Linked DNA regions of Homo sapiens. The protein of the gene in region 5 purifies or fractionates together with the protein of the main gene of each other region. This does not show direct contact. Each region holds a gene or a part of one and is shown on either strand. Other genes may lie near its edges. The genes, in order: CDC42EP1, ZMYM4, MTR, PEX6, F12, NEU3 and TEP1.

Region 1 (3,213 bases), on a different chromosome or scaffold from region 5:
TGGGGGAGATGGCCGGTGGAGCCGGGGAGGGTGCAGGGGGAGATGCCATCCTCCGGGGGGGCGCCCCCACCCTCCGCACCAGCTGCAGCTTCTTGGCCAGGAAGCTGCGGGGTGAGCGATGGGTGCTCCCGGAGCTGCCACCGTGGTTGCTGAGGAAGGACGTGTCCCCGAAGACATCCCCGCCACGGCCCACATGCATGGTGTGGCGGAAGTCCCCGAGTGGGTGGCTGATCATGTCTGCAGTCAGCCGCCTCTTTCCCTGTGAACTGGACACCCAGCCCACAGGCGAGAGCTTGCCCAGGCTCATGGTGGCGGCGCCTCTGCCCCCCTGGGGGCCGGGCATCAGCTCTGGCTGCTCACAGCTGCTAGTCCATGCCTACCAGGGGCCGGGGGAGGGAGGTGGGCTGGGCTTGGGATGGCTGCTCAGCTCCTTTGCCCTGGCGGAAGCTGTAAATGGCACTCTCCTAAGGTGAGGTCCCCAAATGCAGAGGCTGTGGGGGGTTCATGGCTCGTCTCTCCCAGGGGCCCGGCTCCCAGCCCCTCAGAAGCAGCTATAGATGTTCAAGCGCAGAGAAAGCACCCCCGAGGTGGTCGGCAACTCTCCTGCCCAGAGGTGGAGACCTGGAAGGAAGACAGAATGGGCGGTGACGGCAGGCCCGCGACAGAGGAGGAAATCCGGGGTCCAAACATTAGCAGCTGAAGAGGATAGATGATCACACCCAACTACACGGATGGAGGCCTCCAACTGACGCGGGGCAGAAGCTAGGCACACGGGGACCCAAGTGAGTCTGTGTATAGAAAGTTCAAGAACACAGCCGGGTGCGGTGGCTCATGCTGGTAATCCCAGCACTTCGGGAGGTTGAGGTGGGTGGCTCACCTGAGGTCAGGAGTTCGAGACCAGCCTGGCCAACATAGAGAAACCCCGTCTCTACTAAAAATACAAAACTTAGCCGGACGTGGTGGTGCGCACCTGTAATCCCAGCTACCCAGGAAGCTGTGGCAGGAGAATCACTTGAACCTTGGAGGCAGAGGTTGCAGTGAGCCAAGATCACATCACGGCACTCCAGCCTCGGCAACAAGAGCAACATTCCGTCTCAAAAAAAAAAAAAAAAAAAAAAAAAAAAACAAGGAAGTTCAGTAACAGGCAAAACCAATTGATGCTATTAGCAATCAGAATGATGGCAGCCTCTGAGCAGGTACTGACTGAATAGGGGACAAATAATTCATTGAGCTATACACTTAAGCCATGTATCAGGAAAAAATAGAAGCACTCATTCACTCATTCTAAGTCTGAGCAACATAATGAGACCTGGTTTTTACAAAAAAATTTTAAAAAAATTAGTTGGGTGTGGTGGTGTATGCCTGTGGTCCTAGCTACTCAGGAGGCTAAGAAGGGAGGATCCTTTGAGCCTAGGAGGTCAAGGCTGCAATGAGCCATGATTGTGTCACTGCACTCCAGTCTGGGAGACAGAGCAAGACCTTGTCTCAAAAAAAAAAAAAAAAAAAAGGAAAAAAAAAAGAAAGCACTTATTCTGCAGGGCCCACTTATGAAGCACTTACTAAGTGCCAAGACCTCACCCGCCTCATCGTTTAAACCCATACAATACTCCTGAGGGGCTGGGCGCGGTGGCTCACGCCTGTATTCCCAGCACTTTGGGAGGCCAAGGCGGGTGGATCACGAGGTCAGGAATTAGAGACCAGCCTGGCCAACATGGTGAAACCCCGTCTCTACCAGAAATACAAAAAATTAGCTGGGCGTAGTGGCGGGCGCCTGTAATCCCAGCTACTCAGGAGCCTGAGGCAGGAGAATTGCTTGAACCCGGGAGGCAGAGGTTGCAGTGAGCCGAGATTGCGCCACTGCACTCCAGCCTGTGCGACAGAGCGAGACTCCGTCTCACAAACAACAACAACAACAAAAACATTACTCCTGAGGGCAGCATGAGATTAGAGAGGGGAAACTGAGGCACAAAGTGACGTAACTTGCCTGAGGCTACGTAGTAAGAAATGGTGAAACAGGCCCCACATCCCAGAGCCCTGGAGCCCCAGGCTACACTGCCTCCTGCTGAGTAACTGAGTAAGTCACCTCCCTTCTCTGTGCATTAAAATCTCTGCCACGCAGCGAAGCCAGGAGGGAGCAGACACCTCACCAAAGCTTTGTGAAGCTGGGTAAACAGCCAGAGCAGAGGTTCCTCTGAACCATCCACCTTCAAGGAGCTTCCTGGAATAAGGATCCTGTGGTCAAAAGTGGCTTTTTCCAGCTGCCTCCTCCATGCGTGAGCATATTCAAGTCTCTGAGAAGGCCCGCAGGAAAAGACTTTATCACAGTTTGTCAAACTGACGTAGGAGCCTTGCTGTCAGGGAGCAAGCTTTGGAAAAAGCTCAGCTGGTGCCAAAAGCTATTTCTTGTGCATCTCTCCTTCCTGATTCCCCACCCCCACCATACACACACACACATCCTCCCCTGCTCCAGCTTCTCTAAGCATCTCTTGTTCTGACCCCTTTCCTTCTAGTGTCATACAAAGTCCAGGCTAGAGCGCACCTGTGATCCTATGCTTTTCCTGTGGCCCACTGAGGGCAAAGCTGGCTAGAGGTCAGATCCACAGAGCTAGTTGAGACTTGAACTCAGAGCCTCTGACTCACATAAGCCCTTGACTGGCTTGTGGAGCCCAGTCTCGCCTCCCGAGATCGGCAATGCACTTGGAGGGTGGGGAGGCCGCCTGGATTTTCCTGCCTTTCTCCCTTGGGCATCTAGCTTGGGCTCTGCACTTAACAAGTGCCAAATCAATGCCAGCTGAATCACAGATCTCCATGATAACCTGCATGCCAAAACATCACCCTGGCCCCTTCTGAGAGTGGGAGGGCAGGCTGGGCTCTGTGTCCTCACAATGTGACCTTGGGCAAGTCACTTACCTACACAGACCTGGGACCTCAGCTGATAAAAGTCAATAATGATCCTTAAGAACACCTATGTCTGCGGCTCAGCCTTCTTCCTTTTTTAAAACCATTGCTGCCACCTCCAAGCATAGAAATCTCAATACTGCCCTTCTAATGTTATTTGAAATTCAAAATAGGTTAAATAACAAGATAAGAACAAAGAAGCCAATAGGACAAAGCTTGCTTTGTTTTCTGACTACATTCTCTTCCCTTCCCACCATCTGATCCTCCCCCAACCCTAACTCCTCCCCCTCGTGGGGGGGAACTTCTGAATCATCT
Region 2 (3,500 bases), on a different chromosome or scaffold from region 5:
TCTATTTAATCAAAAACTCATTTTTACTCAGCTTTAATCTAAGGTGTCAGGCCTCTGAGCCCAAGCTAAGCCATCATATCCCCTCTGACCTGCAGGTACACATCCAGATGGCCGGTTCCTGCCTTAACTGATGACATTCCAACACAAAAGAAGTGAAAATGGCCTGTTCCTGCCTTAACTGATGACATTACCTTGTGAAATTCCTTTTCCTGGCTCATCCTGGCTCAAAAAGCTCCCCCACTGAGCACTTTGTGACCCCCACTCCTGCTCGCCAGAGAACAACCCCCCTTTTTCCTTTACCTACCCAAATCTTATAAAACGGCCCCACCCCATCTCCCTTCACTGACTCTTTTCAGACTCAGACCGCCTGCACCCAGGTGAAATAAACAGCCTTGTTGCTCACACAAAGCCTGTTTGGTGGTCTCTTCACACGGACGACAGTGAAATAAGGTGTTCAACAAAAAAAGCTAAATGTTATTGATACAGAATACAAGGAAACTGAGGTTTCATGAAATTAATGACAACTGTTTACACAGTTCCTGATCTGTAAAAGAACAGTAGTTCCTAGTATTGACCAAAGACTCCATTCAGTACCTAAGGTTAATTTTACCTGCATTATTTTGTGAAGGCGGGTCACATACACTTTGCTGATTACAGAACATCAAGATACAAAGCAGGTTACAGAAATGTTTCATTTCCCCTCGCCATTTCAAGGACTCACTGAGTTTACCCTGTCGCTTACAAGCATCACATTTGGCCATCTAAAAAGAAGAAGGTAGTCAAGGAGTAAGAAACAAATTATCTGTGGTCTGACAAAATAAAAATAAGACACACATAACAAGTGACGAAATTAACTTAGAATTTAGATCAAAAAATTAGTTTGTCTTTATCAATGATTATACACACACACACACACACACACACACATATATATATATATTTTTTTTTTTTTTTGAGACAGAGCCTTGCTCTATCGCCCAGGCTGGAGTGCAGTGGCGTGATCTCAGCTCACTGCAAGCTCCACCTCCTGGGTTCATGCAATTCTCCTGCCTCAGCCTCCCAGGTAGCTGGGACTACAGGCGCCCGCCACCACACCCAGCTAATTTTTTTGTATTTTTAGTAGAGACGGGGTTTCACCATGTTAGCCAGGATGGTCTCGATCTCCTAACCTCATGATCCACCCGCCTCGGCCTCCCAAAGTGCTGGGATTACAGGCGTGAGCCACCGCGCCCAGCTGATTTTATACTAATTTTTTTTAAAAAACACATGTAACATACAGACTTCACTCTATAGCAATTAAAAAACAAAGTGAAATAAAAATAAGGTCTATCTTCCTCAGACTTCAGAAGACAAATTCACTTTATTTAAATAATAAGTGAATAAAATTATAAGTTTAAATATTTTAATGTCTTAAGACTGATATGTCTCCTACAGGAAATTAAAAACAAAAGAAAACTTCAATAACATTAAAGTCTTTCTAAATCTTATATTAATTGCTAGAAGGCATAAAACATTTAATACTTAAAAGTTTTAAATAATTAAATTGTCCTTTATGTGACATGAAATTTTAAAAGGGAATAATTTATGCCCTAGAATGAAAAACCCAGGAATGTGAATTCTATTTACCTGATAGAACAAAACTGTATATTTGGACATGCATTCTTCACAACAGAACTCTTCCACTTTCCCTCCTAAATTATTCTGTACCAATTTGGGAGATGTCTGTAAACAATAACTGCACATTTTACAGTGATTTCCCCAGCGTTTTGCCAAGTCATGTTTATAAAGCAATTTGCAACCTAAAAATCAGGAAAGATAAAATTAACATTAGGTAGAAGTATTAGTTTTCTGCAACTTTAAATGGCCTAGGACAGGCCCGGTGCAGTGGCTCACACCTGTAATCCCAACACTTTGGGAGGCTGGCGGGAGGAGTGCTTGAGCCCAGGAGTTTGAGACCAGCCTGGGCAACATGGCAAGACCCCATGTCAAATAAAAACAAAAACAAAAAAAAGAAAAATAAGTGGTCTAGGACAAAGTTTTCACACTTGGGTCCTGACCAGTTCACAGAGTATCTTGATTTTTTAGAGTATCTATACTAGTTTTTGTTTTGCTTTGTTTTTGTTTTTGTTTTAAATGATATAAGACAGGATAGCACAGAAGAGAAAATATTAAACTGCATCGATTTTATTTCATGAAACTTTTGGGGCTGGGCGTAGTGGCTCACACCTGTAATCCCAGCACTCTGGGAGGCCAAAGTGGGTGGATCACCTGAGGTCAGGAGTTGGAGACCAGCCTGGCCAACATGGTGAAGCCCTGTCTCTACTAAAAATACAAAAATTAGCCAGGTGTGGTGGCGGGTGCCTGTAGTCCCAGCTACTCGGGAGGTTGAGGCAGGAGAATCGCTTGAACCCAGGAGGCAGAGGTTGCAGTGAGCCAAGATCGCTCCATGGCATTCCAGCCTGGGTGACAAAGCAAGACTCTGTCTCAAAAAACAAAAACAAAAACAAAAAAAACTTTTATTTAGGTATGTGAAAATATACTGGGTCACAGTGTAAATGTATTTCTTCTTTGGTGTTATCAAAAGGTTTGAAAGCCCTTGCTCTAGAAGGCTAATACAGCTTTAGAGTAAAATAAAACATTATAAACATATAGAAGAGTTATCTAAGGAAAACAATCTTCCACATATTAATTTGCATATTCAAGCCATTTATATTCAGAAATATAATGGCTGTTTAAGACAATAAAAGTATAAACTTAGAATGTTACCATAATTTAAGGCATCCCATTTAGAAATAAGTACACGAACTAGAAGCTCTTTGAGGTCCCGATCAACCTAATAATGGGGAACCTAAGGATGTTAAATGTTTTTCACATCATCTTCTTCTGCATTATACTTTGCAAATCTTTCACTTCATTTTAACAGCTACATAATATAAGAAAACTAGATCAAAAAAGAATGAACTAAGTGTAAATGAATCGAAAAGGCATTTACGTTATACATAAACAATAAAACAGATTAACTTAGACAGTGAAAGCTTAAATCATCATCAACTGCTTTAAAACAACCAACATGCTCAGTAGGTAAGATAATCTTCTGTCTTTACCTTCACTACAGAATGACTTGTCAGCACCTGAGAACCGAACAGTCTCCTTTACAATTTTCTCAATTTTACAATATTCACACATTGCCATTACATTATTTATTTTCTTATATTCATCAGAACAATTCTTGCCACAGAACTGAAACATTTTGCCCTGCAAAGAAATAATCATTAAGTACTAATTAAACATTTGGTTTGTCTTATGGAACTCCTTATCTCCCTTACTTTCAAAACAAATGGTATGATTTTGAGAGATGCAAAGTTAAAAATAATTTTACAAATAGACCCACGTATACTCAAAATCTTATCATGAACATGCTATACTTTACCTTATAGTCAAGAAGTTCTGGTTTTGTGGCAAAAAGACGGTTACAGTGTTGACATTTGAGTTTCACAACA
Region 3 (3,500 bases), on a different chromosome or scaffold from region 5:
AAGTACAATAACATACACTTGTAAAAATTTGAAACAGTGCAGAAAGAACGAGAAATAGCCAAACCATGAGTTCCCTCACCTCTGATCCCCTAATCCCATTCCGTGGAGGTAACCACTTAAAAATTTCTGTGTATCCTCTTAGACTTTTTATTTTTTATTTTTTAAGAGATGAGGTCTCAGCACAGGCTGGAGTGCAGCTGTGCAATCATAGCTCACTGCAGCCTCAAACTCCTGGCCTCAACCGATCCTCCCACCTCAGCCTCCTGAATAGCTGGGTTTACAGGCATGTGACACTGTGCCCAGCTCTTCTTGACGTTTTAATGCATATACTGGTGTATATTTCCTTATACACACACCGAATCAGAATATACTTTCAGTTCTACAATTTGACAATACACATAGCTGATTTATAGCAAGTATGCCATGAACTGAGGGTTTTGTTTTGTTTTGTTTTTGCAGGGCTGCCAATATGCTGTCTTCACGGGACGGTAAAGAAAGTATCACTTGGGCCGCATCTAATATGAAATACTGAAGGTGGGTGTAGAGAGGGTGCTAGGGCTTTGATACAGCGCTTTCTTTCTGAGAGAGAGAAAACCATCATGCTCCCCCCGCCCCGAACTCATTTAACAAGGCTTGATGGAGTGAACAATTTCATGGCAGGCACTGAGCTAGGCTCTGGGTATCCTGAGCTCAGGAAGAGGCAGGGCCCCTGCCCTCATGAGGCTTTACAGTCTGCTCTCCATCCAACTCCTGTCCCTAGAGGATCTGCTCAATTCAAGACAACCTTTACTGAGCACCTATCATAAAGCAAGCACTATTTTAGACGCCATATAAAGATGAGTAAGGTTCCAAACCTGCCCTTAGGGAATGTTAAGTCTAACAGAGAACTAGATGAAGTTTCAGCAAGGGCTGTATGAAATGTGCATGGCGGTGTTACAGAGGCAAGAAGAGGGGTCACTTCACTTAGCTTTGGGGTGGTGGGAGGGAGGGGTTGGGAAGCTTTCCTGACTTGGGTGGAACCGGGGTGGGGTTATTCCAGACAGAGGGGCCAATGTGAGCAGGTACCTCCTTCAGGGTACAGCAGCAGTCTAGGGCTTCCAAGACATGAGGCAGGGTCAGACATGGAAGGCTTTGCATGCCTCTAAGGGGCTGGGATATATCCTAGGTCACGGGGAGATGGTTATTCAGGCAGCAGGAGGATTGAGGCGGGGGTGTAAAGAATCAGAGAGCCCACTCTTCCAGCTCTAGGAGGTGGGAACCAACCCGGCAGCCTGTGTTGCAGATGAATCCAGAGGAGAAATGATGAGAACCTTAACCAGGGCAGGCGTAGAGATGAACTTAAGACCTATCTAGCGCGTAAAATCGCCAGGGCTTGAGAACCAACTGGATGTGAAGGTTGAGAAAAAGAAAAGTGTTATGGTCTGATGTATCCCCCAAATCATGTTGAAATGGAATCCCCAGAATGATGGTGTTTGGAGATGGCATCTTTGGGAGGTAATTAGGTCATGAAGGTGGAGCCCTCATGAATGGGATTAGTGCCTTTTTAAGAGGAGGCCAGAGAGCAAGCTTACCCTCCACCCACTGTGAGAACATGAGAAGCTGGCCGCTGCATCCCAGAAGAGGGCCCTCACCAGAACTCGGCCATGATGGCACCATGATCTTGGACTTCCAGACTCCTGAACTGTAAGAAATAAACATCTGTTCTCTATAAGCTAACCAGTTTGTGGTATTTTGTTACAGGAGCAGGAGCTAAGACTGGAGGGGTCAGGGGCAACTCCCAGGTTGATGGTGTTACTGACTGGCAGAAGAAATTCAGTCTCCCTGGAAGTTGGGTTAAAATAATTGTTTTTAAAGACTTCTGCACTATCTGCAACCCTCTGTACTTGTGCTTTACCCTCAGCATATAATCCTTTTTCTGTCTGAAACACTCTCAATCCTACCTTTCCCTCCAATCTTCTTTAAATGAGTCAACAAGTCTTCCACACCTCCCATTGTCTTCAACCTAGCAAAGCCAGCTGTGTGCCAACAGTCCCCACAATCCCCTGACGCTGCTCTTGAGGGGCTCACTGTGAGAAGGGCCCTCAGCAATCCCATTCCCAGGCCTCTTTGCAGCATTGGGTTCTGCTGGCATGCTTCGAAACGCTCTTCATTGCTTTCTCGGCATTGCACTCTCCCTCCTGGCTTCCTCCAACCCACAGCTGCTCCCCTGCTGGCTCCCCCTCCTCCTCCTCCAGATTCTCTTCTCCTCATATGCTCCATAGATGATCCCATCGCACTGCAGCCTGACCTCCATCTCCACGTTCAAGTCTCTCAATTCTAACTCCAGACATTCTTTTTAAATTCCAAAGTCTAGTATCCAACTGCCTATATTCAGTCTAGTCACATCGAATCTTTCCAAAACTCATCATTTCTCCCATCCCCTGGCCTCTGTCTTAGCAAATGGTCCAGCCATCCACTCATTCCCCAAAGCCTGGTATCTGGGCACTGCTGGCAGCAGCAAGGATGCACCACTCTCCTGCCCCTCACCTTTCTAGCTGCTGTTTACCCTAAGATGTTCTTCCTTTCCTTAAAAACTGTATTTGACATATACAAACATTACCTACAAAATCACCATACCAGATTTTAGGTTATCATTCCACTTTGCCTTTATTTTTTATAATATATTTAAGTAGAACATATTTAATATGTAAAAAACTGTTATCTATTAGTTATAAAGTATAATGTATTAATAGCATATAGTAAACACTTGTAAGCCTACCAGGAGGAACCAGAACAGCTGCATAACTTGGCATCTACCTATGTGCTCCTGTCCCTTCCACTTCCTCCTTCTGTGGGTAATTACTATGCTCAATTTTGGTTTATCAGTTACCTTCTTTTTTTTTAATAGCATAGTTTTATTGTATACGTATGCTTAGACTACATATTCTTTGGTTTTGCTTGTTTTTGGGCTCAATAAAAATAGTACGCCCCATGTGGTCTCTTCAAACTTGCTTTTTTCCTTAATATTTTCTGAGATTCATTCTTATTGTGAGGTATAGCTGTAGTTCACTCATTTCCACTACTGAATAATATCCCGTAGAATGAATATATATATCTAATTATTCACCTATTTTCCTGTAGACAGACATACATTTCACTTTTTCCAGTTATTAACTATTATAAATATGTAACTATGAACATTCTTACACATTCCTCCTAGTGGCCACATGCAAGAGTTTGCTGGACATACAGGTGGGAGTTGGAAGCAAGATCATAACGTCTGCAAATGTTCAAGTCTGTAAGGGATAATTGTTTTTTAAAGCAGTGGTGCCTGTTTACACATCCACAATGTTGTACAAGTCCCTACAGATCTAACAACTGGTACTGTCAGACCCAACCTTTGCAAATCTTATGGATATAAAATGGAATCTCATTGTGGTCCTAATTCATATTTCCCTGACCAATGCTACAGAACATCTATTTATTTAAAAGCCCTATTTCCTCTTGTGTAGTCTTCACTA
Region 4 (2,908 bases), on a different chromosome or scaffold from region 5:
TGCCTTGGCCAGAAGGGTCTTGCCGGTGCCAGGGGGCCCATGGAGCAGAAGGCCTGAGCGTCTCAGGCCCAGGCTCAGTAGCTCAGGGTGCTCCAGGGGGAGCTGAATGGTCTCCAGGATCTCCTTCTTCACCTCCTGCAGCCCACCCACATCATGCCAGGACACTGAGGGGATCTAGGAGATGGAAAGTGCGTGGTTGGGATATGCTCTTGGAGGGGCTCCTGTCCCACCTCCAAGGACTTGGTCTCCACCTTGGGGGCTCCAACGGCCTGGGAGTGAGCTGTCTGCAGTTGCTCCAGTGCCTGCCCAAAGTCCTCAGCCAGGAGAGGAAAGCCGGCAGCACACAGCTCCCCCTCATCCTCCTCAGTCAAGCCACCTGCCAAACTGCAAAGAGGAACACAGGGAAGCCTCCTCACCATCAGCGTCCCATTCCCTTCTCCCTTCCTCACCACCCACCCATCTACATCCATTTCCTCTTTCCGCCTTTCCGGTGCCCACGTCCTCTTACCCTGAGTTCTTGATCCTGGTGCAGGCTGCCCGGCTGCTGTGGGTCAGAAGGGCATAGAGATCCCCTACCACAAAGCCCTAGGGAACCACAGGAAAGGACACATGAGCAGGGCACAGTAGGCAGGAACCTTCAGGGACCGTCCCCCAGCTAGAGCAGAGGCCCTCTGTTGATGCCTTAGGTTTGTTGTTTTTTTTTTTTTTTTTTTTTTGAGACGGAGTTTTGCTCTTGTTGCTCAGGCTGGAGTGCAATGGCGCGATCTCGGCTCACCGCAACTTCCACCCGGGTTCAAGCGATTATCTCACCTCAGCCTCCCAAGTAGCTGGGATTACAGGCATGTGCCACCACACCTGGCTAACTTTGTATTTTTAGTAGAGACGGGGTTTCTCCATGTTGGCCAGGCTGGTCTCAAACTCCCAACCTCAGGTGATCCGCCCACCTCGGCCTCCCAAAGTGCTAGGATTACAGGCGTGAGCCACGGCGCCCGCGCTGGGTTTTCTACTCTCACTCACAAGGCAACAGGACTGAGTTCTTGTAACAAAAGCCAGGGACCTCCTAGGGAGGGCCAGTACTCTCCCTTGATACTCACTGCACACCGCCGTGCTAGCTGTGCCAAGTTCACCTCCTGGCCCAGGGGAAGGTGGGCAGTGAGGGCCCGCAGGATGCTGAGCCGCTGCCCCTCTGACAGAGCAGGCACCTCGAGCTCATGAGGAAATGCTGTCTGCACATCAGCAGGCAGGTCCTGGGCCCGGCTTGTGGTGGCCACAACCATGAGGGGAGGGCAGCTGCAGACAGAGGAGTGGGCACTGAGGGTGAGAACATGGCTGGCAGCTCCTGTGGACTGCCTTGTCCCAAAGTCGGCACAGAAGGGCAGGGAAGTGAGGTGGGTGCTAGGATGGGGTAGGGAGATGAGCATCTACCCCAGTTCCTAGATGGGGGAACTGTGTTTCCCCCATCACATTGAGGGCAGAGGCTTTTTCTTTAACCGAGTGTTCCCCAAGAAATGCTAGACCACAGACTCCTCCCTCTGGATCCCTCTAAAGACACGGAGCTCAGGGCTGTCTAGAGGGCAGCCAAATGGATGGGAGATGACTGAGAAGCCACTGAGGGGTGAGAGAAGGGAGGACTGAAAGGCTGAAAAGTAGGAGGGCTGGCCCCCCCGCTCCCCCTTTTTTTTTTTTTTTTAAGACTGAGTCTTGCTCTTGTCGCCCAGGCTGGAGTGCAATGGTATGATTTTGGCTCACTGCAACCTCCGCCTCCTGGGCTCAAGTGATTCTCCTGCCTCAGCCTCCCAAGTAGCCTGGATTACAGGCACCCGCCACCACACCCAGCTAATTTTTGTATTTTTAGTAGAGACAGGGTTTCACCATGTTGGCCAGGCTGGTCTTGAACTCCTGATCAAGGCAGGTGATCCACCTGCCTCGGCCTCCCAATGTGCTGGGATTATAAGTGTGAGCCACCGCGCCCAGCCGGCCCCCCCAGCTTTGAGAGGCCCAGCTCTGTATAAGTACCTGTTGAGGGGGTCCTCATTGAGGAGGAGGTGACGCAGCACAGCCATCACACGGGCATCCTCACCCAGCCCATCACGGTCCCGGCCCAGAAGGTCCACAGCTGTGAGCAACAGGACTGCAGGCCGGCAACGGCGGGCCCGGGAGAAGATGGCCTGCAGTTTTGTCTCCACAGCCCCACTACTTTCTGCACAGAGGCTGGAGCAGGGCACCTGGGGAGGGGATCCCAATGGGTCTGTGAGCAAGGGGAAAGCATGACAAGGGCAGGAGAATCAGGGGAGGAGGAGGTGGAAGATGTGGGCCATCTTTTTCTCTGGAGGGCAGGGACAGGGAAGGTACCCTGGCCAAGTCCTACCTCTTTTTTACCCTATCCCATTCCCTGGACTGTCCACCAATATCTTGCAACTCCCTCCTCCTTGAAAGTACCTCTCCATAGCTCAGCATCATGGGAATATGCCTGACCCACTGGGCTGAAGTGCTAGGGCCTGTGAGTAGACAGAGGAGGGAGGGGAGAGGAAGCAGCAGAGAGGGAGAACATGAGCTGGGGAGGGGAAGTAGCTGGGGTTCTACTCTCCAGAGACCCTCACCTTCAGTAAGTGGAGCCCAAGGTGACTACAGGCAGCAGCAACTACTGTGGTCTTCCCACAGCCTGGGGGGCCCCGTAGAAGGACACTGCTAGTTCCTGTCAGCAGGGCACCCCTGCAACCAGAGAACAGACATTCGTCTCCTTCATTTTGCCCAAACATTAGAGTCCCCAGTAACACAAGATCCCTTAGATCTAGAAAGCAGATACCCTGTTTTTCTCTCCTTGAGCCTCCCTGACCCCAGGACAGGGCTGTCCCCATGTAGTGAGGCTGTGTCTCCCACACCACCTGCGGTGCTCTGGCCGGGGCAT
Region 5 (2,462 bases):
AGGGGCTGAGGACGGAGAGCCCGCGGCCGGCTGGCCGGAATCTAGCTCGCCCGGCGCCCTCTCGGCTCCTCCTTCCCCCCCCCACTTCCTAACCTCCCGGGGTCTGGGACTGAGGCGGGGTCCGGGTCGTGGGCTGAGGCTTCGGCGGTGCCGGCTGCGCGGGCATGAGTGGGACATGAAGCCTAGGGGACACCGGGGTCGGAGGCGCCGCCTGGGTTGGGGTCTGGCACTGTGCCAGGTCGCAGTACTCCCAGCTCAGCCGGTCGCGGTTCAGCACGAAGCACCACGGGCGGATGTCGTTGTCCGGGTTCCTGTAGCCACACGACGGGGCGCCGTTAGAGCGCCGGGAGCCCGGAGCCCTGGGGCGGAGGGGTCACCCAGCCCCACGCGGCGCACCGGCAGAAGGCGTGGCCGCCCAGTCCCCAGTTCCGCGCTTGCTCGGCAGTCACGTTCCGGTAGGTGGCCTCCGAGGCCCACGGCTGACAGGGCGCACCCGAGAGCGTGGTCCTGGCCAGGCCGCGGTAGCTGAGCCCGCGGCCATCATAGCAGCTTGCCTTGGTGTCTGAGGAGAAAGGGGGCTCCCTGGGCAGCCAAGGCTGGGCTCTCCTGCCTCCCTCTCATCTGCTTTCCGCACTCTCCCTCCTCCTTCCTGGCAAGCCCGTCCCACCTGGGGGCTGGCCTTCTGCTTGCCCCAGACCCTCACTCACCCACGTCGCAGAAGGCTCCGGTGTAGCCCACCGGGCAGTGGCACAGGCGGTGGCCCTCCACCTCTAGGCAGCGACCCCCATGGAGGCACGGGTTGGTGCGGCAGGCTTGGGGAGGGAACGCAGTGAGCCACCCCTGGGCCTAAAGACCCCCCCAGAGAGCTCTCCTTCCTGGCACACCACCCGGCCTCCTGCCAGCCTGTCTTCCTGACGCTCCTCCCTGGCCCGTTCCCAACCATCTGCTCACCCTGGCTGGCCAGCCGCTGGCAGTGGGCATCAGGACCCTTGCACTGGCATCTGGCCACAGCTGCTTGCTCAGTTCTATACCATATCTCATTCTTGTGGAAAAACCGGAGAAGCTGAGGCTCAAAGCACTTCTCTGGGGACAAAGAGGGATAGTGGTCTCAGGAGAGTCTAGGACCATGCCAAGTCTCCGAGTATCCAGCAACCTATTCTGTAGGCCCAGGGTTGCCCCTGTCCCCCAGCACCCCGCCCAGGTCCTCCACATCTCCTCACCTTTCTGGCAGTGGTTTCCAGTGAGGTGTTGTGGACAGAGACAGTGGGGGCCGCTTGGCATGTTCACACAGGTCCCTCCTTTCTGGCAGGGGCTGTGTTTGCTGCAGTGGTCTGAGAGATGGACATGGTGGAAGGAAGAGCAGGGAGCTGAGTCACACAGCTGGGGGCCAAGGCCCTTCTTGAACCTACTTGCCTTGTGACCTTGCTACTCCAAGTTTCCAAGCTTGGTTTACCCACCTGCAAAATGGGACCACTCCTTCCCAGAACTCTCCCTCTGGACTTCCAAAGGGTATTGTGGAGGGAGAGAAGGGGCTGGGTCCAGAATCCCAGGTGTGTGGGGTCTGGTGATACCAGGAGAGTAATGAGGCGGGAGGAGAGAGCCCCAGGCCACCCCAGAGGCTGTGTGTAGCACCTTTCACTTTCTTGGGCTCCAAACAGTATCCCCATCGCTGGTCCTGATCAAAGTTGGGGGTGGTAGCACACCTGTAGAAAGAGACAAGGCTTCCCTGCTCTACCCAGGGGCCTGGCCCACCCTGCCCTATCACAGTCCCCTCTCTCCAAGCAGAGTTCCTTGGACAGAAGGACAGGCAGGGTACATGTCTCCCAGGCCCCTGCTCCAACTCCTCTGCGTAGTCTTACCAGGGCTGAGGGCCTGGCCGGCCCTTGTGGGTACATTTGTGGTACAGCTGCCGGTGGTACTGGAAGGGGAAGTGGCAGGGCTCCCCGGTGACAGTGAGAACTGCAGGGACAACACACTCTCTGAGGACTTCCCCTGTACTCAACTGCTCAGGCACTGTCCCTCAGGGTCTGGTCAGGAAAAGGACAGACCCTCAAAAAGGTCGCTGTGCATTGAAAACACTTTCTGCTCTAAAAGTTGGGTTCAGGGCCGGGCGCGGTGGCTCAAGCCTGTAATCCCAGCACTTTGGGAGGCCAAGGCGGGCAGATCACGAGGTCAGGAGATCAAGACCATCCTGGCTAATACAGTGAAACCCCCTCTCTACTAAAAATACAAAAAAATTAGCTGGGGGTGGTGGCAGGTGCCTGTAGTCCCAGCTACTCGGGAGGCCGAGGCAGGAGAATGGTGTGAACCCGGGAGGCGGAGCTTGCAGTGAGCCGAGATCGCGCCACTGCACTCCAGCCTGGGTGACAGAGTGAGACTCCATCTTAAAGAAAAAAAAAAAAACTTGGGTTCAGGAGTCAGATAGCTGGAGTAGACTCCTGACTCCACAACCTGCTAGCTGT
Region 6 (3,500 bases), on a different chromosome or scaffold from region 5:
GACCACAGGCAATGCTTGTCCTAGAAGAAAGGAAAGAGCTAGAATCCCAAGTACTACTGGGCTGTAGGGCTGGGCCTCTGTGGAGGCTAGTTATACATGCAGAAGTCTGGTCCTGGGAGGCCATGAGAAAGACTCATGAGAAGATAAGGTGAAAGAGCAGGAACTGAAAATCCCACAAAGTAAAAAACTTCACCAAGAGAAATGTGAGCCAATGTTATCAAAAGCAAAGACAGGGATTGATGGCAAGGCCCATGTTCAGCAGAATAGCATTTGCACTGTGTACTTTAACAGCAGAAGAAGGTTATCTGCTGTGGATATGAAGATTTAATGGTCAGATTTGAGACATCTGTAGGTAAAAAAGCAGGGTAGGTTAGGAGTATTAAAGTGCCTACTATGTAGATATAGAGAGATGACACAACTATATATTTTTTTTACAAAAGACTCTCAAAACCATTGTCTCATTTGTCTCACTTAAGCTAGCCCTGGGAGAGAGGAAAGCAACAATAAGAAATATAGGCCTATGTGATTTTATTGCACTTTGCTCTACTGCATTTGTCAGATATTGCCACAAAACTGAAGGTTTGTGGCAACCCTGAACTGAGCATGTGCTCACTTCATGTCTTTGTCATGTTTCGGTTAATTCTCACAATATCTCAAACATTGTCATTATTATTAAATCTGTTATGGTGATCTTTCATCAGTGATCTTTGATGTTATTACTGTAATTGTTTTGGAGTATGACAACTGTGCCCATATTACATGGTGAACTTGATAAATGCTATATGTGTCCTGACTGCTTCACCAACCAACTGTTCCCTCATCTCTCTTCCTTTCCTTCAGCCTATTCCCTGAAATGCAACAACATTGAAATTAGGCCAATTAGTAACCCTACAATGGCCTCTAAGTGTTCAAGTGAAAGGAAGAGTCCCCCATCTTTCACTTTAAATCAAAGCTAGAAATGATTAAACTTACGAGGAAGGCATGTTGAAAGCCAAGACAGGCCGATAGCTAGGCCTCTTGTGCCAAACAGCCAAGCTGTAAATGCAAAGAAAAAGTTCTTTTTTTTTTTTGAAACAGAGTCTCCCTTTGTCACCCAGGCTGGAGTGCAGTGGCTCGATCTCTGCTCACTGCAACCCCCGCCTCCTGTGTTCAAGCGATTCTCCTGCCTCAGCCTCCTGAGTAGCTGGGATTACAGGCATGCACCACCATGCCCGGCTAATTTTTTTTTTTTTTTTTTTTTTTGGTATTTTTAGTAGAGACGGGATTTCAGCATGTTGGTCAGGCTGGTCTCGAACTCCTGACCTCGTGATCCGCCTACCTTGGCCTCCCAAAGTGCTGGGATTACAGGCGTGAGCCACCACACCAGGCTGAAAAGTTCTTGAAGGAAATTAAAAGTGCTACTCCAGTGAATACAGGAATGATAAGAAAGCAAAACAGCCTTATTGCTGATAGGGAGAAAGCTTTAGAGGTCTGGATAAAAGATCAGACCAGCCATAGCATTCCCTTAAGACAAAGCCTAAACCAGGGCAAAGTTCTAACTCTCTTCAGTTCTACAAAGGCTGAGAGAGGTATGGAAGCTGCACAAGAAAAGTTGGAAAGTAGCAGAGGATGGTTCATGAGGTTTAAGGCAAGAAGCTGTCTCCGTAACTTAAAAGGGCAAGGTGAAGCAGCAAGTGCTGATGGGAGAAGCTATAGCCAGTTATCCAGAAGATCTAGTTAAGGTAACTGACAAAGGTGGCTACACCAAACAACAGATTTTCCCTGTAGACAAAACAGCCTTCTACTGAAAGATGCCATCTAGGACTTTCATGGCTAGAGAGAAGTCAATGTCTGGCTTCAAACCTTCAAAGGACGGGCTGGTGACTTTAAGTTGAGGTCAATGCTCATTTATCACTCAGAAAATCCTAGGGCTCTTAAGAATTATCCTAAATCTACTCTGCCAGTGCTCTAAAAACAAAGCCTGGATGAAGCACTTCTGTTTACAGCCCCCTGTTGAGACCTACTGCTCAGGAAAAAAGATTCCTTTCAAAATATTACTGGTCATTGACAACGTACCTTGTCATCCAGGAGCTCTGATGGAGATGTATGAGGAGATTAATGTTGTTTTCACGGCCACTAATACAACATCCATTCTGTAGCCCACGGATCAAGGAGTCATTTCAACTTCCAAGTTTCATTATTTAAGAAATATTTCATAAGACTATAGTTGCCATAGATAGTGATTACTCTGATGAATCTGGTCAAAGTAAACTGAAAACCTTCTGGAAAAATTCCACTAGTCTAGATGCCATTCAGAACATTCATGATTCATGGGAGGTCATAATATTAACATTAAGAGACATTGAGAAGTTGATTCCCATACTCATGATTTTGAGGGGTTCAAAACTTCAGTAGAGGAAGTAACTGCAGATATGGTGGAAATAGCAAGAGAATTAGAAGTGGAGCCTGAAGATGTGACTAAATTGCTGCAATCTCATGATAAAACTTGAATAAATGAGTTGCTTCTTATAGATGAGCAAATAAAGTAGTTTTTTGAGATGGGATCTACTTCTGGTGAAGATGCTGTAAACATTGTCAAAATGGCAACAAAGGATTTAAAATATTACATCAACTTAGTTGATAAAGCAGCAGCAGGGTTTGAGAGGATTCATTTATAAGTTCTACTATGGGAAAAATGCTATCAAATTCTGTAGCATTGCATGCTACAGAGAAATCTTTTGTGAAAGGAAGTGTCAACTGTTTCAGCAAACTTCATTGTTGTCTTATTTCTTGTTGGGGGTAGACAGGGTATTGCTCTGTCCCCCAGGCGGGAGGGCAGTGGCACAATCGCAGCTCACTGGAGCCTTGAACTTCTGGGCTCAAGCAATCCTCCCCCTCAGCCTCCCGAGTAGCTGCCACTACAGATGTGTGCCACTAAACCCACCCAATGTTTTTTATTTTTATTAGAGATAAGGTCTTGCTATGTTGCCCAGGCCAGTCTTGAACTCCTGAGCTCAAGCAATCCTCCCACTTTGGCCTCGCAAAGTTCTGGGATTACAGGCATGAGCCACTGTGCCCAGCCCATTGTCTTATTTTAAGAAATTATCTATGTAAGTAAGAAATGCTTCTAGAAAAATAATAATAATAATAATAATAATAATAATACACTAAATCTTCAGCAACCACCACCCTGATAAGTCAGCAGTCACCAACATCAGGGCAAGACCCACTCCAGCAAAAAGATTGACTAGCCAAAGGTTCAAATAATCATTAGCACTTTTCAGCAGTATTTTAAGGTGTGTACTTTTTGTTAGACATAATGCTACTACACACTTAACAGACTACAGTATAGTGTAAACATAACTTTTATATGCACTGGGAAACCAAAAAATTTATGTGTCTTGTTTTATTGTGATAGTCACTTTAGTGTGGTGGTCTGGAACCAAATCCACAATATCTCCGACGTATGCCTATTTGGGATCTGAAATAACCCTGTAGCTTCCAGGCCAAAGAGCAGTAAC
Region 7 (3,500 bases), on a different chromosome or scaffold from region 5:
TCTGCCTTCTTACCTCTGTTGCACTTCAGGTGGATACTTTAGCCTAACTCTGTACCCCTCTGTGAGAGTCCACCCTAGCCCTAGCCTACCACATAACCCTATTAAAGGTGCAGAAGTGGGGTTTTCATCTTGGGATGTTAGTGGGCAGTGACTGTGTTCCAGGTATTGTTTGTGATGGTTAATGACTGCTTCTTCCTTTGCCAGGTCAACAGATTTGAATCCCAATGATGTGACACTCTCAGGCTGTACTGATGCGATACTGAAGTGAGTACAGAATGGATACTGAAGGGTTGGATACTTTGTTGGAAAGTTTTTAGGAGATTATCTCTACTCCAGTCACTTTTTTTTTTTTTTAAGACAGAATCTCACTCTGTCGCTCAGGCTGGAGTGCAGTGGCACAATCTTGGCTCACTGCAACCTCCATCTCCTGGGTTCAAGCGATCCTCCTGCCTCCGCCTCCCGAGTACCTGGGACTACAGACATGCACCACCATGCCCGGCTAATTTTTGTATTTTTAGTAGAGACGGGGTTTCACCATGTTGGTCAGGCTGGTCTTGAACTCCTGACCTTGTGATCCACCCACCTCAGCCTCCCAAAGTGCTGGGATTACAGGCGTGAGCCACCGCACCCGGCTCCAGTTACTTCTTTTTTAAAGTGAGGTAGTTCACTCCTCTTTTACAGCCATCCAGGCATAGCAGCAACACAGTGTCACAGGGACCCAGGCACTTTCTCTCTTATTGCTCCATGATCCTCAAATACTCAGCTTCTACCTCATAATTCAATATGTCTGCCTGAGCTCCAGCCATCTTGGTATTCAGCCAAGTTTGTATTATATCCAGTAGGAAAGAAGAAAGGGGACATGGGAGACTTCACTGTCAAGAGTTGGCCATGTCACTGTGGCTTCTGTTCAATTCTTGATCCAGAGAAAATTATGTCTATTTAAGCTAAAATTACAGAAATCTTTTCACGTTTTTTTTATCTGTCTCTCCATCCTTTGCCTTCTTATTTACTTGTTTTCTCCCCTGGCTTTTCCTCTGGATACCATCCATTTCCCTCAACTCCTATGAGAAAGCCTCAGGCACATTCCTCCTTCTCCAGGGGGCCTTTATGGCTGGCACAGAGCTGCTCAAGCCCAGACTGGGATGGCTTTAATCTTTACACCTTTCCCTACCCCGTTGCCCCGGCCCAACAGCAAGTTTGTGATTACCACGCACAGCAGGAGGGGCTAGAGCTGGGCTTCTCTTTTCCTTCATTCCTGTGGTTCTGCATCCTCATTTATTTTAAGTCTGCATAAACTGCTTATGGTCCTCTTCTTAAGGAGCTTGACTTAACTGGTCACCAAACCTGGACATATCTTTTTCCCCCTGCCCTTTTCGGAAGACCTCACTGATTTCGACCTGTGGTATTCTACTCTCATTTATCTTGTTATTTATGTCAGGTTCATTGCAGAGCATGGGGCCTCCCATCTTCTGGAACATGTGGGCCAAATGGACAAAATATTCAAGATTCCACCACCCCCAGGAAAGACAGGGGTCCAGTCTCTCCGGCCACTGGAAGAGGACACTCCAAGCCCCTTGGCTCCTGTTTCCCAGCAAGGGTCAGTCTGTGTTTCTATGCCTTTGTGAATTGGGAGGGGCTGCAGTCAAACCTTGGGAAACCCTGGGGCTGAAATTCTAGCTGGTGAGGTGCCGCTTGTTCTCTTCATGAAGGCATGCTTCCTCTTTCTCAGGCGGAGGTTTCTCTACCACAGGGAGTTGTCAGATTGTGAGCAAGCCCTTCCTTTCTCTACTGAGGAAAGGAAGTCAGAATGCAAAGATGACGGCAGACATCATGGCCGTATGGCCAGGGCGTAGGCAGAGGGCTTAGGAGCACAGGTTCTGGCTTTTTCATTGTGGCTTTGCCAAATAGTAGTTTGAATCTGGCTTAGTTGCTTAATTTCTTTTTTTTTTTGAGACGGAGTCTCGCTGTGTCGCCCAGTCTGGGGTACAGTGGCGTGATCTCGGCTCACTGCAAGCTCTGCCTCCTGGGTTCACACCATTCTCCTGCCTCAGCCTCCCGAGTAGCTGGGACTACAGGCGCCTGCCACCATGCCCGGCTAATTTTTTTTTTGGATTTTTAGTAGAGACAGGGTTTCGTCATGTTGGACAGGCTAACCTTGAACTCCCGACCTCAGGTGATCTGCCCGCCTCGACCTCCCAAAGTGCTGGGATTACAGGCGTGAGCCATCGCGCCTGACCAGTTGCTTAATTTCTTAAAGCTATAGTTTCTTGCTGAGCGCCGTGGCTCACGCCTGTAATCCCAGCACTTTGGGAGGTCGAGGCGGGCAGATCACCTGAGGTCGGGAGTTCAAGGTTAGCCTGTCCAACATGACTAAACCCTGTCTCTACTAAAAATACAAAATTAGCCAGGTGTGGTGGCTCATGCCTGTAATCCCAGTTACTGGGGAGGCTGAGGTGGGAGAATTGCTTGAACCCTGGAGGCAGAGGTTGCAGTGAGCCGAGATCGCGCCATTTTACTCTAGCCTGGGCAACAAGAGCAAAACTCTGTCTCAAAAAAAAAAAAAGTTATCGTTTCTTGATTGCTAAAATGGAGATAATGATAGTGCTTACCTCACAGTGCTGTCATGAACAAGCAGTAAGTATATAAAAATGATTACCAGAAAAAAGAGAGGTGTACAAGAAATAGCAAGTGGGCATTAAATTCCAGGGCCCTGCAGTTGAGACCACTAGCAGGTGCTTCTCTGAAGGCCTGCTGGGCACCCATCTGCTGTCTGTCGTACCTGGCTTGTGCTCAGTGCTAAAGGGTGATCACAGCAGTGTCTATGGATGGGGGGTGGGAATCATCCCTAGACTGAGCCCAGCTCTCTGCTTATCCCCAGATGGCGCAGCATCCGGCTTTTCATTTCATCCACTTTCCGAGACATGCATGGGGAGCGGGACCTGCTGCTGAGGTCTGTGCTGCCAGCACTGCAGGCCCGAGCGGCCCCTCACCGTATCAGCCTTCACGGAATCGACCTCCGCTGGGGCGTCACTGAGGAGGAGACCCGTAGGAACAGGTGTGGGGGCTGCAGAGAAGAGGGGCTGGGTCGGGGATGAGGGGCTTGAGTGGTGGACCTGAGGTGGGCATGGTTGGGGCTGCAAGAATGGATGAGGGTGAAGGCGGGAGTCGCTCCTTGGATACTAACAAGAGCAGCCTACCTTTTCTTTACTCAGTTGCGAGTCAGGGCCCCGTCTCCCTGTTTGTGCCTATGTTCCCTGATACCATGCCCCCAGTGACTCCCACACGTCCCTATCATCATGCCTACAGACAACTGGAAGTGTGCCTTGGGGAGGTGGAGAACGCACAGCTGTTTGTGGGGATTCTGGGCTCCCGTTATGGATACATTCCCCCCAGCTACAACCTTCCTGACCATCCACACTTCCACTGGGTAAGGCAGACAGGTTTGGAGGAGGGCTGGGGAGGAAGCAAAGATTGGGGCAGAGGCTGGGAGAAGCCACACT

The links.
Region 1: the proteins of F12 (region 5) and CDC42EP1 purify together in Homo sapiens (affinity purification with mass spectrometry; one large-scale study listed by BioGRID and IntAct). This does not show direct contact.
Region 2: the proteins of F12 (region 5) and ZMYM4 purify together in Homo sapiens (affinity purification with mass spectrometry; one large-scale study listed by BioGRID and IntAct). This does not show direct contact.
Region 3: the proteins of F12 (region 5) and MTR purify together in Homo sapiens (affinity purification with mass spectrometry; one large-scale study listed by BioGRID and IntAct). This does not show direct contact.
Region 4: the proteins of F12 (region 5) and PEX6 purify together in Homo sapiens (affinity purification with mass spectrometry; one large-scale study listed by BioGRID and IntAct). This does not show direct contact.
Region 6: the proteins of F12 (region 5) and NEU3 purify together in Homo sapiens (affinity purification with mass spectrometry; one large-scale study listed by BioGRID and IntAct). This does not show direct contact.
Region 7: the proteins of F12 (region 5) and TEP1 purify together in Homo sapiens (affinity purification with mass spectrometry; one large-scale study listed by BioGRID and IntAct). This does not show direct contact.

Annotation. Positions count from the first base shown.
Region 1 is NC_000022.11:37,563,480-37,566,692, reverse strand, and holds part of CDC42EP1 (cdc42 effector protein 1), read right to left. Parts: intron 622-3,213; 5' UTR 344-621; coding exon 1-343. UniProt on the Homo sapiens protein: Probably involved in the organization of the actin cytoskeleton. Induced membrane extensions in fibroblasts.
Region 2 is NC_000001.11:35,387,209-35,390,708, reverse strand, and holds part of ZMYM4 (zinc finger MYM-type protein 4), read right to left. Parts: coding exon 3,431-3,500; intron 3,256-3,430; coding exon 3,105-3,255; intron 1,800-3,104; coding exon 1,627-1,799; intron 762-1,626; coding exon 611-761; intron 1-610. UniProt on the Homo sapiens protein: Plays a role in the regulation of cell morphology and cytoskeletal organization.
Region 3 is NC_000001.11:236,899,792-236,903,291, reverse strand, and holds part of MTR (methionine synthase), read right to left. Parts: 3' UTR 1-3,500. UniProt on the Homo sapiens protein: Catalyzes the transfer of a methyl group from methylcob(III)alamin (MeCbl) to homocysteine, yielding enzyme-bound cob(I)alamin and methionine in the cytosol. MeCbl is an active form of cobalamin (vitamin B12) used as a cofactor for methionine biosynthesis.
Region 4 is NC_000006.12:42,966,274-42,969,181, forward strand, and holds part of PEX6 (peroxisome biogenesis factor 6), read right to left. Parts: intron 2,713-2,908; coding exon 2,601-2,712; intron 2,226-2,600; coding exon 2,017-2,225; intron 1,291-2,016; coding exon 1,095-1,290; intron 586-1,094; coding exon 509-585; intron 385-508; coding exon 252-384; exon of another isoform or gene 231-251; intron 175-230; coding exon 1-174. UniProt on the Homo sapiens protein: Component of the PEX1-PEX6 AAA ATPase complex, a protein dislocase complex that mediates the ATP-dependent extraction of the PEX5 receptor from peroxisomal membranes, an essential step for PEX5 recycling.
Region 5 is NC_000005.10:177,404,103-177,406,564, forward strand, and holds part of F12 (coagulation factor XII preproprotein), read right to left. Parts: intron 1,960-2,462; coding exon 1,860-1,959; intron 1,704-1,859; coding exon 1,633-1,703; intron 1,627-1,632; exon of another isoform or gene 1,458-1,626; intron 1,332-1,457; coding exon 1,221-1,331; intron 1,084-1,220; coding exon 952-1,083; intron 813-951; coding exon 708-812; intron 563-707; coding exon 397-562; intron 312-396; coding exon 94-311; intron 1-93. UniProt on the Homo sapiens protein: Factor XII is a serum glycoprotein that participates in the initiation of blood coagulation, fibrinolysis, and the generation of bradykinin and angiotensin.
Region 6 is NC_000011.10:74,995,433-74,998,932, reverse strand, and holds part of NEU3 (sialidase-3), read right to left. Parts: intron 2,077-3,500; exon of another isoform or gene 2,056-2,076; intron 1-2,055. UniProt on the Homo sapiens protein: Exo-alpha-sialidase that catalyzes the hydrolytic cleavage of the terminal sialic acid (N-acetylneuraminic acid, Neu5Ac) of a glycan moiety in the catabolism of glycolipids, glycoproteins and oligosacharides.
Region 7 is NC_000014.9:20,386,002-20,389,501, reverse strand, and holds part of TEP1 (telomerase protein component 1), read left to right. Parts: intron 1-204; coding exon 205-264; intron 265-1,438; coding exon 1,439-1,597; intron 1,598-2,878; coding exon 2,879-3,055; intron 3,056-3,306; coding exon 3,307-3,427; intron 3,428-3,500. UniProt on the Homo sapiens protein: Component of the telomerase ribonucleoprotein complex that is essential for the replication of chromosome termini. Also a component of the ribonucleoprotein vaults particle, a multi-subunit structure involved in nucleo-cytoplasmic transport.